Homo sapiens: one gene and its partners. The protein of the gene in region 4 purifies or fractionates together with the protein of the main gene of each other region. This does not show direct contact. Each region holds a gene or a part of one and is shown on either strand. Other genes may lie near its edges.

The links. Proteins that work in one complex are often made in the same cells at the same time.
Region 1: the proteins of CSNK2A3 (region 4) and BHLHE23 purify together in Homo sapiens (co-immunoprecipitation; one large-scale study listed by IntAct). This does not show direct contact.
Region 2: the proteins of CSNK2A3 (region 4) and GPATCH2 purify together in Homo sapiens (affinity purification with mass spectrometry, with the first as the bait; one large-scale study listed by BioGRID). This does not show direct contact.
Region 3: the proteins of CSNK2A3 (region 4) and ADNP purify together in Homo sapiens (affinity purification with mass spectrometry, with the first as the bait; one large-scale study listed by BioGRID). This does not show direct contact.

Annotation. Positions count from the first base shown.
Region 1 is NC_000020.11:63,005,094-63,009,297, reverse strand, and holds BHLHE23 (class E basic helix-loop-helix protein 23), read left to right. Parts: upstream 1-2,333; 5' UTR 2,334-2,523; coding exon 2,524-3,249; 3' UTR 3,250-3,371; downstream 3,372-4,204. UniProt on the Homo sapiens protein: May function as transcriptional repressor. May modulate the expression of genes required for the differentiation and/or maintenance of pancreatic and neuronal cell types. May be important for rod bipolar cell maturation.
Region 2 is NC_000001.11:217,617,258-217,621,935, reverse strand, and holds part of GPATCH2 (G patch domain-containing protein 2), read left to right. Parts: intron 1-1,436; coding exon 1,437-2,153; intron 2,154-4,678. UniProt on the Homo sapiens protein: Enhances the ATPase activity of DHX15 in vitro.
Region 3 is NC_000020.11:50,900,105-50,904,782, forward strand, and holds part of ADNP (activity-dependent neuroprotector homeobox protein), read right to left. Parts: 5' UTR 4,662-4,678; intron 3,898-4,661; coding exon of another isoform or gene 3,893-3,897; coding exon 3,785-3,892; intron 2,006-3,784; coding exon 1,913-2,005; intron 1-1,912.
Region 4 is NC_000011.10:11,350,558-11,355,011, forward strand, and holds CSNK2A3 (casein kinase II subunit alpha 3), read right to left. Parts: upstream 2,694-4,454; 5' UTR 2,563-2,693; coding exon 1,387-2,562; 3' UTR 1,385-1,386; downstream 1-1,384. UniProt on the Homo sapiens protein: Probable catalytic subunit of a constitutively active serine/threonine-protein kinase complex that phosphorylates a large number of substrates containing acidic residues C-terminal to the phosphorylated serine or threonine.

The DNA of each region.
Region 1 (4,204 bases), on a different chromosome or scaffold from region 4:
TCTGAGAAACACGGGTTCTGAGCCTCTGGGTGCAACTCCCAGACAGCCAGCAGGTGGCAGCGTCGCACCGAAAACGCCGCCTCTGAAGCTGGCGGGGCTGAAGCCCGGAATTCGTGGCTGGTCCCGCAGGGGCCGCAGCAGGGGCCTCACCCGGGTGCTGTTTCGTGCGCCTCACCCCTCACCCCCTGCCCATCCCTGCCTCCAACCCTCTGAGCCAAGGTCGATCGATTCTACTGAAGATTAACTGGGCCTGGGAACTGGCCCAGAGCCCTGGCTCCCTGCTGGGGAGTTCGGACCTCCCAAAGCCCCGGCCCAGCCCCAACCCCAGCCCCATGGCGTCAGCGTCTCTGGCTTTAATGGGGACCCTGCTCCAGCCGATGCTTTGAAAGCCACTCTCACCCACACCCGTGATGTCAATTACCGCGTACCCCTCAGAGGCCTCCCCACCAGCGCTGGCTGCACCTCCCCTCGGGGGCCTCCTGCATTCTCCAGCTCCATAGCTTTCCCTCCTGGTCAACCCCATCCTCCTGCTCCCCCAGCTCCGGGGACCTGTGGAGCCACCTTCCCCCATGGCCCCCACCAGCCCTGCAGTTCAGGCCCAGGAGGAGGCCCCGCAGCCCCGGACCGCACCGGCAGCAGTGCCAGAGTGGCTCTCCGAATGGCCACGGCGCCTTTCTTCCCATAAAGACCAAACTCCCCGCGTGATTCAAACTGTCCCACAGGCCTGGTCCCGCCCCTCTATCTCCTGGCCCCACCCGGGCCCCTCACTGCCCTTCCCTGTGCCAGGCCTCCTCCGGCCACCTGAATGCTCCCCCGACCCCGGCCCGTGGCCACAATGACACCCACTCACCCTTCAGACCCAGGCCCAAACACAGCGGCCTCCTCCACACCAGGTATCCTCAATTCCCGGTCTGTGCATCAGCCCCGAAGGCGGGGTGGGGTCCCAGGACAGCGCCTCAGACAGACGCTTCCATCCTCGGGGCCCCTGCGCTCCTGGCGGGCGTGTGCTGGGGGTGAGGCCGGTGCTGCAGGACGCGCAGCCAGACAGGCCGCCAGCCCGGCAGAGGCTGCCTCAGACCCATTCCCCTCCGCCAGGACAAAGGCCTGAGTTTCCCACGGAGACTTATCCATGCATCTGTCTCCTCACACCCCGCACCTGGCAGGGAACCACCGGACAGGCCGGTCACTGCTGCGTTCCCAGAACCTTCCAGACAGCACATCCGCCCCACACACGTGCAGCTCCCACTCCCCTCCCGGGGCTGCGCACACTGCCCCATCGCTGTGGCTCCTCCTGGGGCGGAGCCTGGAGAACAGGGAGGGTATGCGGCCCTTCCCAGGTCACACAGAAGGGCCCGACGGGCCGCTCCACCTCGTGCCATAGGCCAGGGTGGCCCAGTCTCCCACCCAAGCCAGGACCGGAGAAGCCACTATCCCTCAGCACACTCTAGCCTCAGCACTCGGCCGGGCCTCCAGGCAGGTTCCCACCTGGGAGAAGGGCTGGGGTTCTGGCCTTCATGCGGGGTTGGAAGAGGACTGAAAAGGCGAGTCCGAGGCTGGCCACATTCCCATCCAGTGTGGCTGGACCCCAGGGGTTCGGAGGCTCCGGGAAAGCCCACCAAGCCTCACGCGTTTCGCTGATAGATGCCCAGGAAGCGGCTGGCAGGGAAGAGGCGGTCCTGCAGCTCACAGAGCTCCCCTCCCACCCCCGGGGAGCCCCAGGCCGCGCTGCCCTCCACCTTCCCGCCCTCCCCGGCCTGCAACGCTCGTGGCGTTTTTCAACAGGTTCTAGAAACTCCCTCTCACTCTGCCCCTCAAGCCTGGCCACAGGGCGCCCCGAGCAGGGAGTGTGCGGGCTCCGGGTACACGCTGCGCCGCGGCTGCACCAGAGCGCCCACGACCCTGACCCCGACCCGAAGCGGCCCCTCAGCGGGACAGGGTGTTGGCGCTGGCGCTGCTGCTATTGCGGCGCGCCCCCCCGCTCTGGCCCCTGCGTGTCGCCAGGGACTCTTGCGCTAGGGTCAGACTCAAAGACGGACCGAGGCGGGTGCCCACCTGGGACGCGTGCGTTTGGTGGCGGAATCCCCGGGGCGGCCGGAGGCGGCGGCCGGGGAGTCGAGAAGCAAGTACTAGCGCTCCAGGACCGCGCGCGCCGCCCCGCGCCGCCCCGCGCCGCCCCTCGGTCCAGAGCCCCCACCCCCGGCCTGTGAGCCTGCGGCGCTGGTGGAGCCCGGCTCCAGGAAGAGGAGCTCACCCGGTCCCCCCTGATTGGACAGCAGCGAGGTCCCACCGGGCGCCTCCGCGGCTTAAAACCGAAGCGGGGGCGAGGGGGAGGTAGAGCCCGCCCCCTGCGCGTCGCGGCTGGGAGGGAGAGGAGGTGGGAGAGAAGGAAGAGGCGGAGGAGGCAGCGGGCGCCGAGGCTCTGGGACCCGCAGGCAAGCCAGACCGACGCGCAGAGCCGGGAGCCTCATCGCAGCGGCAGCGGCAGCGGCGGGCTCGGGCCGGCCTCGGGGGCTGCTCACCCACATGAGCATCCGCCCACCCGGCGAGCCCCCGAGCCCAGGCGGCGCGGCCATGGCCGAGCTCAAGTCGCTGTCGGGGGACGCGTACCTGGCACTAAGCCACGGCTACGCGGCGGCGGCTGCGGGTCTCGCCTACGGGGCGGCGCGAGAACCCGAAGCGGCCCGCGGCTACGGCACTCCGGGCCCGGGCGGCGACCTCCCCGCGGCGCCTGCACCTCGCGCCCCAGCTCAGGCGGCGGAGAGCAGCGGCGAACAGAGCGGGGACGAGGACGACGCCTTCGAGCAGCGGCGGCGGCGGCGCGGGCCAGGGAGCGCGGCGGACGGGCGGCGGCGGCCGCGAGAGCAGCGGTCTCTGCGGCTCAGCATCAACGCGCGCGAGCGGCGGCGCATGCACGACCTAAACGACGCGCTGGACGGGCTGCGAGCCGTCATCCCCTACGCGCACAGCCCGTCGGTGCGCAAGCTCTCCAAGATCGCCACGCTGCTGCTCGCCAAGAACTATATCCTCATGCAGGCGCAGGCCCTGGACGAGATGCGGCGCCTGGTGGCCTTCCTCAACCAGGGCCAGGGCCTGGCCGCGCCCGTAAACGCCGCGCCCTTGACGCCCTTCGGCCAGGCCACTGTGTGCCCCTTCTCCGCAGGCGCCGCCCTGGGGCCCTGCCCTGACAAGTGCGCCGCCTTCTCCGGGACGCCCTCCGCGCTTTGCAAACACTGTCACGAGAAGCCGTGACCGCGCGGGCCCCCGGCCCTCCCGCACGCGTCCTCCGATCGCCCCTGTGACTGTCTCTCTGCCCGGACAGGAAAGGCCTGGAGGGACCCTGCAGACCAGGAGGAGGGGGCCCGACTTCGCTTCCAGCCTGTGCGCGGTGGACAGTTTAGCGCAGCGGGAAGCGCCAAGGCCGTCGGGGCGCGGGATTGAGCTCGAGAGCCGGACGCTGGACTCTGCGCCCGGGAACTCGCGGCACCCACTGGGTATTGTCGGGACCCAGCAAGTCTAGGAACGGGGGTGGGTAGAGCATCCTTCGGGCACTGCCGTTCGTCCCCAAAAGAAGACCACCGCGGGGTCCCAGGGCCACGGCGAGGACGGGCACTGGTCAGATTCCGGACAGGCGGTCCTGGCCCCGGGCGCACGAAAGGTGGAGACGAAGAAAAGCCGGACTTACTGGCTCCTGATCCTCTTGCAGTGGGCCTCGCGCTCCCGCTCCAGCCGGCCCTTCGTGCTAAACTGCAGGGCAGTGCTCTGTTCCTGAGGACGCGCGTGGCCGGCACCTCCCACCTCGGTGACTCCGAGACTCCGCAGCCCTGCGGAGAGCCCACGATGGCCGTCTGCAGAGGAGCTGGACCGCGGGCGCAGGAAGACCCCGGGGAAGGCCTTTTCCAAGTAGGAGTTTGTTCTATTTATTTGGGAATTGGACGCCGTCGCCGGCTGCCTCGAAGTCTGAGGAATTTGTCCCCTAAATGTCCCCTGGCCTCCCCCCCCCGCCGCCATCCGCTGCCTGGGACGTCCGCGGGGTGGAGTTGGATGGAGACCGCTTTGCGGGCCCTCTGCCTCGGGGGGCTGCGTGGAGGAGGGTCCTCACAGCCCGCGCCCTACTTAACCCTGACGGTCAGGGGAGGGCCCCGTCTAGCCCTGGTGTCCAGCAAACCCCCTCCCCACCGATCCCCTCTCCCTTCCGAGGGAGGAG
Region 2 (4,678 bases), on a different chromosome or scaffold from region 4:
CATAGGGTTGTTGTGTGAGAATGAAATGAAATAATATATGTAAAACACTTAGAAATGAGCCTGGCAAATAGTAAATGCGCAAATGTTAGAAGCTGTTTGTATGCATCACATTATAAATGGCAAATCCAGTTGAATCACAATGTGTGTTGTTTTTAGGTTATTAAAATGAAACGACAAAAGTTGAAAGCTGTTATAAGGAACTTGCAAAAGCCTGAAATTATTGACTGTTGGAGACTATACATGATTGTAGAGACTATATAGACTATGGGTCAGCAAACTATAACCAGCTATAACCTGATTCTATAAATAAAACTTTATTAGAACACAGCCATACCCATTTATTTATGTATTGCTTGTGGCTATTTTTGCATTATAGTGGCAAGTTGAGTAGTTTTGGGAGACCCAATGGCCTGCAAAGCCTAGAATATTTACTAGCAGGCCAGTTACATAAAAGCCTACTCCTGCTGTAGGCTCTAGAAGCTCTGTATGACTGTTGAGAATATTTCAATCCCTAGGTGCCTCTAGATCTCGATTTTAGAAATGATTGCCTGTGGTCTTCATAAGACGGGTGCAAATCTGAATTGCCTGTGATGTTTAAAAAATAAAACCAGATACCTTGGCTGTATGTCACCCCAACTAATTTAAAATCTTTGGGAATTGGGTTTTAAAAGGACAGGTATAATTTATAAAAATTCCCAAAGAATGCTTATGCTTATTCTTGCTGACTACTGGATAATTTTCATACTGGTAATATAGTTTAATGCTCTTAAAAAAGGAAAGCCTAAGAGATTGCTTCAGAATGAAGTAATGATGGGCCCTTTGAAACCAGTGAGGCTCCAATTTGAATGCGAATGTAGTTTGTGCTTCACTGGGTTAAGAGATTAGTGTGGCCTAAATAAATGCATGGTGTTGGTTAAACTTTCACGTATATTACTAATCCTGAAACTACCTGTCTGTCTTTCTAACTGCCTCTTATATGACAGTGACTGGTTAGGGCACGTGGTGAATAGAAGATTTCATGTTTCTTTTTTTACTTAGAGATTAGTGGGCGAAGAGGGGACTGAGAAAGTTCTTTCTGTATCTGCTGTAGGAAAACTGGCTCTAGAAAAGGGGTAGGAGTGGGCCAGCGGATAGGGATTTAAACAGAACTTTTCCATAATTATACAGAAAAATATAAAAATACTGGGATCTTTCATTGCTCATAAGCTTATTCTATCTTGGAAGTAATTCCTATGTTTAATAAAAGAACTTATATAAGAAGAGGCCTAAAATGAATCAATATTTAAAACTGTAATATCTTGGATAGGAAAATTAGCTTTGAAACATTTTGTAATCATTAATTTTTGTCGAATTTAGAATGAATTGTCTGTTATAGAAAATGAGGTTACTGTGGTTAAGACTGACTATTTTCTTTTTTCTTTCTCTAAAAAATGAAGGCATTTCAGTAGAACCATGGAGGAGCTGGTTCATGACCTTGTCTCAGCATTGGAAGAGAGCTCAGAGCAAGCTCGAGGTGGATTTGCTGAAACAGGAGACCATTCTCGAAGTATATCTTGCCCTCTGAAACGCCAGGCAAGGAAAAGGAGAGGGAGAAAACGGAGGTCGTATAATGTGCATCACCCGTGGGAGACTGGTCACTGCTTAAGTGAAGGCTCTGATTCTAGTTTAGAAGAACCAAGCAAGGACTATAGAGAGAATCACAATAATAATAAAAAAGATCACAGTGACTCTGATGACCAAATGTTAGTAGCAAAGCGCAGGCCGTCATCAAACTTAAATAATAATGTTCGAGGGAAAAGACCTCTATGGCATGAGTCTGATTTTGCTGTGGACAATGTTGGGAATAGAACTCTGCGCAGGAGGAGAAAGGTAAAACGCATGGCAGTAGATCTCCCACAGGACATCTCTAACAAACGGACAATGACCCAGCCACCTGAGGGTTGTAGAGATCAGGACATGGACAGTGATAGAGCCTACCAGTATCAAGAATTTACCAAGAACAAAGTCAAAAAAAGAAAGTTGAAAATAATCAGACAAGGACCAAAAATCCAAGATGAAGGAGTAGTTTTAGAAAGTGAGGAAACGAACCAGACCAATAAGGACAAAATGGAATGTGAAGAGCAAAAAGTCTCAGATGAGCTCATGAGTGAAAGGTGACTTTTATATTCTCTAAATATAAAAATATTTATCTCCAGTGTTTGTGGTTGAATGTTTTATATTTTAATTAATTCTATTTTAAAATAATTATAAATTGTAATAATGATAGTGATATTACTGTTTAGCTATGGTTATATTTCCTTATACTTTATGATGTTTAGCACAAAGCAAAATTGCTTGTTTGATTTACACAAAGTCTTTTGATTGTATTATAATGACTCAATTTTCAGCTACAAGGAGGAAAGGAAATGGATTTTCAGTGGAAAAGAATGTGCTTTTGAATAACAGCACGTTTGTAACTCAGAATTGGATATATAATTATATGTTTAATTATAGACCTTTAGCTTTTGGTACTTTATAGAGTGTCACAATTCATTAATCTATCCTGATTCTTGAACATCAAAAGTTTATACCACTTCGACATGTCTGTGGCTTGACATAAAAAATCTGGAGCTTTCTAGGAATTCTGATCACTTATGAATTTTAAAACCCAATTTATAGTCTAGAAACACCTGGTTTTGTCATTAGAAAAATAGGAAAAACAATGGTCCTGTGGTAGTAAATCTAATCTGTCAATAATTGTTAAGTACTATTTTGACAGCATCAAAAGGTAAGTGATCATTTTTCTTTTATACTGAAATGATGAAGTGATGCTACTTGCAAGAAATGAGAATGTATTAACACTTTTTCCTTTTAGGCATGGGTCCGCAAAACCGAATGCTGAACTATGAGCCAGAAAAAAACAGTCTGTAAATATGGCCTGAGAAAGAGTAATTGATTTTTAATTTATAGGGCTGCTATCTTTTTTTTTTTTTCGAGATAGAGACTCACTCTGTTTCCCAGGCTGGAGTGCAAGGGTGTGATCTCAGCTCATTGCAACCTCCACTTCCTGGGTTCAGGTGATTCTCCTGCCTCAGCCTCCGGAGTAGCTGGGATTACCTGTGTGCACCACCATGCCTGGCGAATTTTTTTTGTATTTTTAGTAGAGACGGGGTTTCACCATGTTGGCCAGGCTGGTCTTCAACCCCTGACCTCAAGTGATCCACCCACCTTGGCCTCCCAAGGGCTGGGATCATTTTAATCATGTGAATTGTGGTGAGCTATCAATCTTTTATTTGGTTTTTATTTTTTATTTTGTTTTTTTGGGGTTTTTTTGCTTGTAAATGAGTGGGACCTGGTAAAAGTTTATGGAATTATCCTTTTATTAGACATGGTGTGCTAGTCATATAATTTTTCTAAAGAAGTAAAAATTACTTACATTAAAAAATTGTGGCTGAGCATGGCGGCTCATGCCTTTACTCCCAGCACTTTGGTAGGCTGAGGCTGGTGGATCACCTGAGGTCAGGAGTTTGAGACCAGCCAGACCAGTATGGTGAAACCCCGTCTCTAGCAAAAATAGAAAAATTAGCCGAGTGTGGTGATGTGCGCCGAGTCCCAGCTACTCAGGAGGCTGAGGCAGGAGAATTGCTTGAACCTGGGAGGCGGAGATTACAGACATCCAAGATCGTGCCACTGCGACAGAGCAAGACTCTATCTCAAAAAAAAAAAAAAAAAAAAGTTTCCAGAGGGCTTTGAAAAGTTTATGGTATCTGTTTTTCTTGCAAGAAAATTGTCATTCTTATATGGAAATAAGTATTATTTGTATTAGGCCATTGTGACTTAAGACCATTCAACCTTACTTGAAAGTAATTGTCTGACTCAATTACCGGGAGGGAGAGTATGTGGCAGCTGATATAACATACTCAATTCTGGATTATTTACAATTAGATTACCTGCTTTTTGGATTCATTGTGCAAGCTCCCCCCCTTTTTTTTAGTTCTCCTTTTATTGATCTGCTTTTTTATAGGACATGTAACTGGTAATGGATATGAGATCAAACTCTCATTTTTCATTTCTTTTCATTGTAAAAAGTATTTGAGTATCTACTAGGCATGAACAGGCTACCTAGCAGTCCACAAACAGCCCAGGTACACGTTTTCAGAGTATGTTTTTACTCTTGAATAAATGTTAAAAAATATATTTTCTCTGATTTGAAACTTATTTATAAACTATTTTCTGTTGTCACTTAAAAGTTAGGTGCAAATTCCTTCTGTGCAAAGATTGCTAAATATTTAAGGTATTTTGGTAACAAGTATAAGCGTTTTCAAGACTACTTCCAAAGCTTTCCTACTACAAAAAGCTTTATATTTCCTTGGGGTTGATTTATAAATAAGAGAAACTTCAGTGTGGGGGGCTGTGTGTGTGTGTCAGATTTAACAAACATTGATGATTAACTACAATTTACTCTTCACTGGTGGCACCTGGACTAATAATGGAGACTCTGTTCTCAACAGCTGCATAGTCTGGGATAGCCAGGCAAGCAAATGATGAAAATGAAATGTGCTGAGTGGAAAGTATTAGTGAGGGAAGACTTGCTAAGGGAACTGTGCTTTAAAGCAAGTAGTAAGACTTGTTCAGGAATTGAGGAAGTCAAGAGAAGAGAGGGAAATGGCATTCATAGGTAGAGAGGGAGCAGCTTGTG
Region 3 (4,678 bases), on a different chromosome or scaffold from region 4:
TCAGAGCAACTTCCAGTCCCGCAAGTGCCCAATATAGGTGTACCAATTTTTCTTTTATATTGCATTTTTACTGTACCTTTTCTATGCTTCACTATGTTTAGAAACACAAATACTTACCATTGTGTTAATCACTCTTATAGTATTCAGTATATAGTATTCTCTTATAGTAACATGCCATACAAGTTTGTAGCCTAGGAGCAACAGGCCATACCATATAGCGTAGGGGTAATAGGAGGCTATACCACCTAGGTCTGTGTAAGTACCCTTTATGATGTTTGTACAACAATGACATCACCTAACAGGGCATTTCTCAGAATGCATCCCATCATTAAGCAATGCACGACGGTATTATACGCTGTAAATAACTGTATGTGCTATACTTCTATGACTGGCAGCACAGGTGTGTTTACATTAGTATCACTACAAACATGAATCATATGTTGCGCTATGATGTCATAAGGTAGCAAGTTTTTCAGCTCAATTATATTCTTATGGGACCACTGTCGTAGATGTAGTTCATCACTGACCAAAATGTCGTTATGTGGTGAATGACTGCGGTAAAATTCAGGGCCCACGATGTTTTAGTGCAATTAGACAATTACAAGAGATAAAGCTATATCTTTTATTCCTTTCCTCATTATGGATAAATTTTCATAGAAAAAAGGCAAATCTCCATTTTTTCCTCTGATTAAAGTACAGTGTAGTATCAGATTCAGCGCTGATCAAAAGAAAGACTGATTTGAAAAGTTGGCTTTCTTCTATAAGCCTTGCTGTTCCTTCTCAACCAAGAACACTTCAAAAGAGCTAATGAAGTAATAGCTGCTTTGATTCAAATCAAGAAGTTAAATAAAAATGTCCTACAGACTGTGAGGAGGGTGAGGTATTTAAAAGCCAATAATACATTATAGAATATACTGATATCAAAGAGCAACTTTCAGAATTATGATTGTTAACACCTATGCAGTCAGTCCTTTGATGAAGGCAGGTGAACTGACATGCTTGGTAAGAGATTATCTTTTCTCCCTAGAAACCTACTTGTTTCAGATACTGGTTTGAACCATGATGAAATACTCTGCTTCTCCTCAAAGCTCAACTCTTCTTTAGTATTCAGCTATGAGGCTTTCAGATTGATAAAACTGAATTAAATAAATGATGTGTCCCACTGGAAAGCATTCTCATTCTAAGACTGCTGGTTAGTAACTTTGCCTGGGGTATTTAAAAAAAAAAAAAAAAAAAAAAAAAAGTCAAATATCTGAGTACTAATTTCCTGAAAAGTATGTTCCGATAGATGAACAGATCATTAATGCAGAATGAGAATCACTCCTAAAATAGGTAATGGTAAAAATTAAATTGACAATTACCTCTCTCTATGCAGAAGGAAATATCACCTATATGACATCATCATCATCTATTGATACTTGCTGGCAGTGCTAATATTGTTTTTAATGCCAATTTGTAAGAAGTTTTATCTCTCTGTCACTGACATCCTACAGAGTCACTTCCCCAGGCCTCCCATAGAAGTTGGGTGCCATCAACATAGGGAAATAAGAAAAGCTTAAATGTAAGGAAGGGTCTTGTCTTTTTCTGTGCAGAAAAAACAAGAATGGCAACACAGATGCAGAAAAATAGAGCCAGAGCACTTTTAGGGGAAATGGTGGGATACAGCAGGCTTCGTAACTTTTAAGTAACAAAATTTTGTTTCTTCTTACACCTCAAGTTTTAGTCCAATGACAAAAAAGGACAAAAAGTTTTTCTTAGTCTTCCCACTGGTCAGGAAAATATGAAATGCAATTTTGACACTTTCGATGTTTGGCACTTGCCCGCAATCACTGCACCGCTATAAAAGGCCTAGAGCTGAAAAGGGAGTATACCAAGCATGCTGCCATCTGAGGAAGTCTCCTGTGCCACTTACCTGGTTTTTCGTAAGTGATGGGTCCCACAGTCCTACATCCTCCCATGTAGTGTTTTTCAAATAAAAGTCATTAGGTTCAAATTGTTTAAAATCCTAGAAAACAGTGAAATAAGTTTACAAAAACATAGTGGTATAAACGCTAACCCAATCTTACATGTAAATCTCACCTCTTAACTAAGATGGGGAGAGGCACAGGAAAACCAACGTCAACAAGGACTTAAACTAGGAGTGATAAGGCTCTTAAATATAAAAAGGCATATGGAAGTTGCAGTCTACATTTTATATCAACCAACCACTTTCCTGATGGTCAGTCAGGTTTCCAAGGAAATTGCTGGAAGTTCTAATTAAGTAAAAAATTCAGCCACACACTAATATCAAAGCACTTTTCATTAGAGTACTGTACTCTAACTCGTCAGTTACAGTACTGGAATGGTGTCTAAAATAGCAATGTTTGCTTACAGCACTGCAAATATGATTTCTGGTTCTGTGCAAAAAAAAGATTTTTTTCGAGGGGAGGGGGCAGGAGATCAGATCAGGAAGAAAACTCAAATTTCAAACCCAAAAAGGCAGAAAGAAAGCTATTCAAAGAAAGTTAAGCAGTATGATGTTAAATTTATACTCTCATGTAAAAATTTAATGGTCCACTTCCCTCCAGACTAGGAAGATTAAAAGTCTTAGGGTAAAATCCCACTTGTTCCTAAAAAGTTCACAGTTCAAGGTGGAAAATGAAGTCTACACATAAATAATCATAGGAGGAACAAATCAAATGCATGACAGAAATGTACTGTGATGTTGGTATTAATTATTTCTATGAAGATGACCCCACAGAGTGCAAAGTGAATGGACTGTTTCATTTGGGCAGATCTACCTGAACTCTGGGGTTGGAGAAGGGCTACTTCCACACTTGGAACAACGTGACTAGAGAAGTCAACTTTTGAGCAGCTTCTGTTTCCATGCCATACTCTTCAAGTATTATTAGTGGAACTCAAATTAAGAAAACCTGTTGTATGAATGAATTTGCTTTTTTACTTCCAATTCCATTCAAACACTTACTGATCACCTATTACGTGCAAAACACTGTGCTAGGTGCTGGGGCTAAATGGATAAACAAGGTAGCTATGTTCCCTAGCCACCTAGAACTTAAAGGTTAGTGGGGGAAACAGCTTCAAACATTTCTTTTCAATCAGGGGCTCTGACCAACAAACCATAAGACCTGGAACAGTGAGATGTTGAAAAGGAGACCACTGCATGGCTATCCCACAGAGCTGTTATAAAGCTCATAGAATAAAACAGCTTGAAAAACAGTTCATAAAGCCCAAACTGTTATACAAGGGGGAAAGTAATAGTCTATGATGGGTCAAAAGGGGCAACAAATGCTCAAATCCTAAGGAAAGAGACAACAAGCACCCACACAAGCACGCCTCAACAATTAGAAGAAGGTCAACCAGAACATTCAGGCGTATCAGAATGAGAACAGGCTTTGAGTCCCACAGACACTGCCACTTTCTCAGCTGCAAGGCTGGGCCTATTTATTTGTTCTTCATCTGTGAAGTGGAGATAAGAACTGCTACACTGCCTCCCGCCTCCATGGTTGTTCTAAGGATTAAATGTATAGACAACTTTACGGCACCTAGTTCAACGCCTGACATGCTTAAGTCCTCAATGGTAGCCTTCTGCTTCAGGATGCAAAAATGAAAAAGCCCATTTTAGGGAGAAAGGCACAAGTTAATGCTATTGAGAATGTTTTCGTGAAGCTACTGCTGTGGCTGAAATTCAGAATCACATCTAAGATTTAGCCATCTTGGCCACTGACACAAAGTAATGGATCAGAAGCTGAGTCATGTTAAAATTTAAAAATGACATGCTACTTACTTCTATATGTTCTTTACAGTATTCCAACCCAATGTCACTAAGTATTTTTTTCACAGTTTTCCGGGCTTTTCTTAAACTGCCAAGATTGTTGACAGGAAGTTGGAACATAGTTTCTATTGGAAAAAAAAATTTAAGTCAAAGTCAAAACACGTACAACTTGTAATATTTACTAATTCCACTGATGATAGGATCATAAAACCTACCCATCTGACAAAAAAGGTGCATAGATATCCTCATCTAGTGTGTACACACACAGACACACACCTGCTTTCATGTGCATATGGCTTGATATATCCATCCATCCATCCTTCCTTCCTTTTCTTAAGACAGAGTCTTACTCTGTCGCGCAGGCTGGAGTGCAGTGCACTCATGGTTCATTGACTGCAGTGCACTCACGATTCACCATAGCCTCAACCTTCTGGGCTCAAGTGATCCTCTCACCTCAGCTTCTCAAGAGGAAGGGACTCCAGGAGTGCGCCACTATGCCCAACTAATTTTTAAAATTTTTTTGTAGAGACTAGGTCTCACTATGTTGCCAAGGCTGCTCACAAACTCCTGGACTCAAGCCATCCTCCTGCCTTGGCACCCCAAAGTGCTGGGATTATAGGCGTGAGCCACTGAGCCGAGCACATATCTACTATATTTTGAATACTTAAAGCAGGCAGGCAAAATAAGTACTCTCTGATTTTCCCAGTTTTTAACAGGACATTTTGACTATGAGTCTAATCTGGCATAATTCTGATAAGACTTAACAACAGTTCAGTAATGAACTTCAAGATGAAAATTAGAGAAATACTAGCAATCAATTATTTTTAAATCAAGTGTTAGTGCTTTTCTCATTTTGATGTTGAACATCTGAAAACAGAAAAATGCTTACCAGTTCATCATCATTAC
Region 4 (4,454 bases):
TGGTCTCCAAAGGTGTGGCAGAGACCCCTATTGCTCACTGACACCTGGGTGCTCCTCCATATTTCCCTGCACCCCTTGCAGTCAGGAGGGTGCAAATCGATGAGATGAGAGAGGACATGGCCTCTGCCACTTCCCGGGGAAGGCAGGTGACTATCCAGTGTGTCTCCTTAGGTGCACTTCTACTCCCCACCCCACCATCTGCTGGATGTTTAAGCCAGGGTGAACTTGAAGTTCAAAGATGCTGAACCCACAAGAGAAGCAATCAGAGTCCCCAAGTCACTACTTGGAGAAAAGCTGCACAGGAGAGCCTCCCAGCCAGCCTTCAGGGGACTGTGTGAGCAAAATAGGACATTTCCTGGGTAACCTCTATTTCCAGCAGTTCTGAGAGCTGCTGTTTCAGTCTGTGATGCTGCCAGTATGTAAAGAGGCAAGGTGACCAAAGAGGCATGGTCCCTGCAGGCACCAGTTTCCAGAGGTTCAATCTATTGTGTGGGGCTCATATGAGAAAGCTCCAGGTATAGGGACAGATGGAGTGTCTGGAAGGTGACCGCTTCCCAATTCCAGCTGATGAGTTCATTCAAAGCAGTACCCCACTAGAGGCTGAGGATGCAGGGAGCAGATCTAGCCCCAAGGGGTGAGAGAGGGAGCTGCAAGGGGCAGGCAGGACATTTGGACTCCTGCACATCGGGCTGCTGTGAGAGTTTGGTTCAAACTCAGAACCAGAGCAGAGGGCAGGAAACCAAGGGTGAAGCTAGCCAGGGTGGTAGAGGAAAGGTCCAGGTTTGAAGATGACATACAGCTCCAGGTTCCTTGGAAAGCCACAGACAGAAGCCCTGTGGCAACTCCACTTACGCAAGAGGGAGCCAGCTGGTGAGGCCAGGGCTGCAGCCAGACTCTTCCAACCCTTGTAAGGGGACACAAAATCTAGAAGGATCTGACCCTCACAGCTTCCCGATGCACAAGGCTGGGAAGGTAAGCTAGTTCAAGTCCAGGCATATCTATGGAACCAAAACCCTATAGAAGCCCCAAACTCAGAGACAGAAGTATTAGCAAGTTCCAAATCAGGGTCCCATTGACACCTGCGCTATCTACTGTAATCACTTCTTTGTTTTGAAATAGGATCTCTGGCCCCCATTACTGTCACTGGTGCTGCCAGAGAATGACAATGAGCTTAAATGTCATAGGGATTTGGGGAGCAATTTTCTTTTTTTTTTTTTTCAGCCTATTATAATTTTTTTTTATGACTGAACTACTATAAATCCACAAGCAACGGTTCAGACACGTTGCTTCTGAAGTGTTTCACCCCTCCCCGCCAGGCGCAAGCTGCATCAAGGAGGGGGTGGACTCCCCCACCTCTGCTCAGGCATCAGGAGACAGATAGGGCCGTTACTGCTGAGCGCCAGTGGCAGCTGGAACAGGCATCCCAAGGGGGTTGGCAGCAGCAATCACTGGTGAGCCTGCCAGAGGTCCAAGGGGTGAAGGAGTTGGCACTGAAGAAATCCCTGACATCACATTGGCGCTGCTGACGGGCGTACTGCCCCCTGGCATGCTAGATGAACCCATTCGAGCCTGGTCCTTCACAACAGTGTAGAAATAGGGGTGCTCCATGGCCTCTCTTGCAGTAAGCCGTGACTGGTGGTCATATCGCAGCAGTTTGTCCAGGAAATCCAAGGCCTCAGGGCTGACAAGGTGCTGATTTTCACTGTGGACAAAGCGTTCCCATCGCTTTCGAGAGTGTCTGCCCAAGATATCATTGAAACGTGGATCTAATTCAATGTTGTATTTGTCAATATAGCCATATAAATCTTCTGTCCCCAGAAACTTGGCTATCCTCACCAACTGATCATAATTGTCACGTCCATGGAAAAATGGCTCCTTCCGAAAGATCATACTTGCCAGCATACAACCCAATCTCCACATATCCAAACTATAATCGTACATCTGATAGTCTACAAGTAGCTCAGGACCTTTGAAGTATCGGGAAGCAACTCGGACATTATATTCTTGGCCAGGATGATAAAACTCAGCCAAACCCCAGTCTATTAGTCGTAGCTTTCTGTGCTCATGATCAATCATGACATTATGGGGCTTGACATCTCTGTGCATAATTCCCATGCTGTGACAATAATCCAGGGCCTTCAGAATCTCATACATGTAAAATCGAATATCATAGTCTGTTAACGTCTGGTACAATTGCTTGAAGTCTGTGTTGTTTACGTGTTCAAAAACCAAGGCGGGGGTTCGTGACACAGGGTCTTTTACAATGTCTGCCAGTGTGATGATGTTGGGACCTCCTCTCAAATTCTCCAAAATCTTTATTTCACGCTTAATTTTCTTCTTTTTTACTGGCTTGAGAATTTTAACAACAACTTTTTCATTATTTGTGATGTTGATGGCTTCAAATACTTCACTGTATTTACCTCGGCCTAATTTTCGAACCAGCTGGTAGTCATCTTGATTTCCCCATTCCACCACATGTGACTCGTAATCCCAGTATTCTCGAGGTCTGTGTGTATTAACATCTGTGTAAACTCTGGCCCTGCTTGGCACGGGTCCCGACATGTCAGACAGGTTGGCGGACAAAGCTGGACTTGATGTTTGGAGATCTGGCAGTCACTGTGTTCAGAAGCAGCTTGGGGGTAAGACCTTGTTTCAGACCTGTTTTCTTCACACTGTGGTGGAAGCGGCAGCGGCTGTGGCCGCTCTCCCTTCTGCTCACACAGACAATATGGCGGCGATGGAGTGGGGAGCAATTTTCTAAAATCCAAATAAAAACCTTCCCATCTCTAATCTGAGAGTCATTTTTATCAGCTAACTGGGCTCATCTATTTACTCAGCATATTCAGAGCCCTTTTTGGGGGTTAAGTCCCTTTCAATTGCTGTGAGGCACCGTCTCCTTGTGGACATGCTTGTGCTATCCAGCTGCTATTCAAAGCACATCTCCTGGACCATGTTTAATTTATACTTTCCTATATGAAGATGAACCACTTACTCACTTAAAGTATTTCTTTTTTTATGTCTCTAATCAGTGGCTGTTTCTTTCCTCTCTCTGAAGCTTAATCGAATCAGAAACAAATCCCACACATATGAATGGCTCATTAGCATGTCCCAGTCAGATTCAAATTGGCCGTCCATACCAGATGCCCCCAAAAGGATAACACTGGCCCAAAGAAGGACTCTTTAAACGAGTGTCCAAAGGGTGTTGCCATGATAAGCCAGGAGGGTTCTTTCTGAAATCCAGGGTAGATACACTCTGTCATTCCCAGCACCATAGAGCCAACTGATGGCAGGTAATGGATGTGTCATTGAGATGGGGTTGGTGGGAGGCAATGTGGCCAAGCCTGGGGAGCAGACATCAGAGGAATGTCTGGTGTCTATGTGTCTGGCTCAAGCATCATCCTCACACTTGGCTCAGTGGGGCCCTTTTATCAAATGATACAAATGAGGCTGAGATGCTGAACATTCTCTCGCTCAGAAATGATATTTGTTCTAAAGAGCTTCCCCTCTTAATCAAATGAAACTCAGATTATAAACACTGGTATGCTACATCTTCTCTTAAAGGATTTGCTCTTTTCATAGACATCAGAATGAATCGTCAGCATGGGCATCATCACTGGTGTCATCTCTGAAAGTCACCGATAGCAAACTCTCATTTAATACAGATTTACAAAAGAGATCAGCATACTGCAATAGAGTAGAACTGAAGGGAACCTAACCAGGACCTCCCTTCATTTCCCAGGTGAGCAAACTAAGGTTCAGGGTCACAGGATAATTTAGAAGCACAGTAAGATATGGATCCAAGAGCCTGCCTTTTGGAAGACAGGAAGTCATTATGGTTCAGAGCATAGCCTCTGGGGCCAAACAGTCTTGGTGTCAAGTCCTACATTTCCCATTTGCTGAACTGGTGACTTTAGGCAATTCACTTCACCTTCCAACACTCAGTTTCCTTGTCTATGAAATGGAGATAAAAGTGATAAATTCCAAAGATAGTTGCTGTGAGAATTAAATGAAGTAATACACAGAGACAGTTTATTTCATCACCTGGAAGAAGTTTAGAGGCCCCTAAGTATCAGCTATAATTATTATCACTATAATATTCCACTGATGATAAGATTCACTATTGCTATACCACAGCTTTTCGGGACAGGGGAAAACACACTACATTCCTCTGAGCTCAAGATTTATATACCCAAGTGCCTACGTCTCACCTTCACTCTCATGTGTCTCAGGCATCTCAACCTTACCATGTCCAAAACGAAGTTCCCGATTTTCTTCCCTGCCTCCCCATCTGTCCCTTAGTCTGCCCCTCATCCATCTAATAGCCGAAGCCTGTAACCTGTAATTCATCTGTAGCAATGTCTTCTTCCTCCCTCTCCACATCCAATACATCGGCAAAAGCAGACAGTTCTACCTCCTAAATATAGCTTGAATTTAATCACTTCTCTCCATCTGCA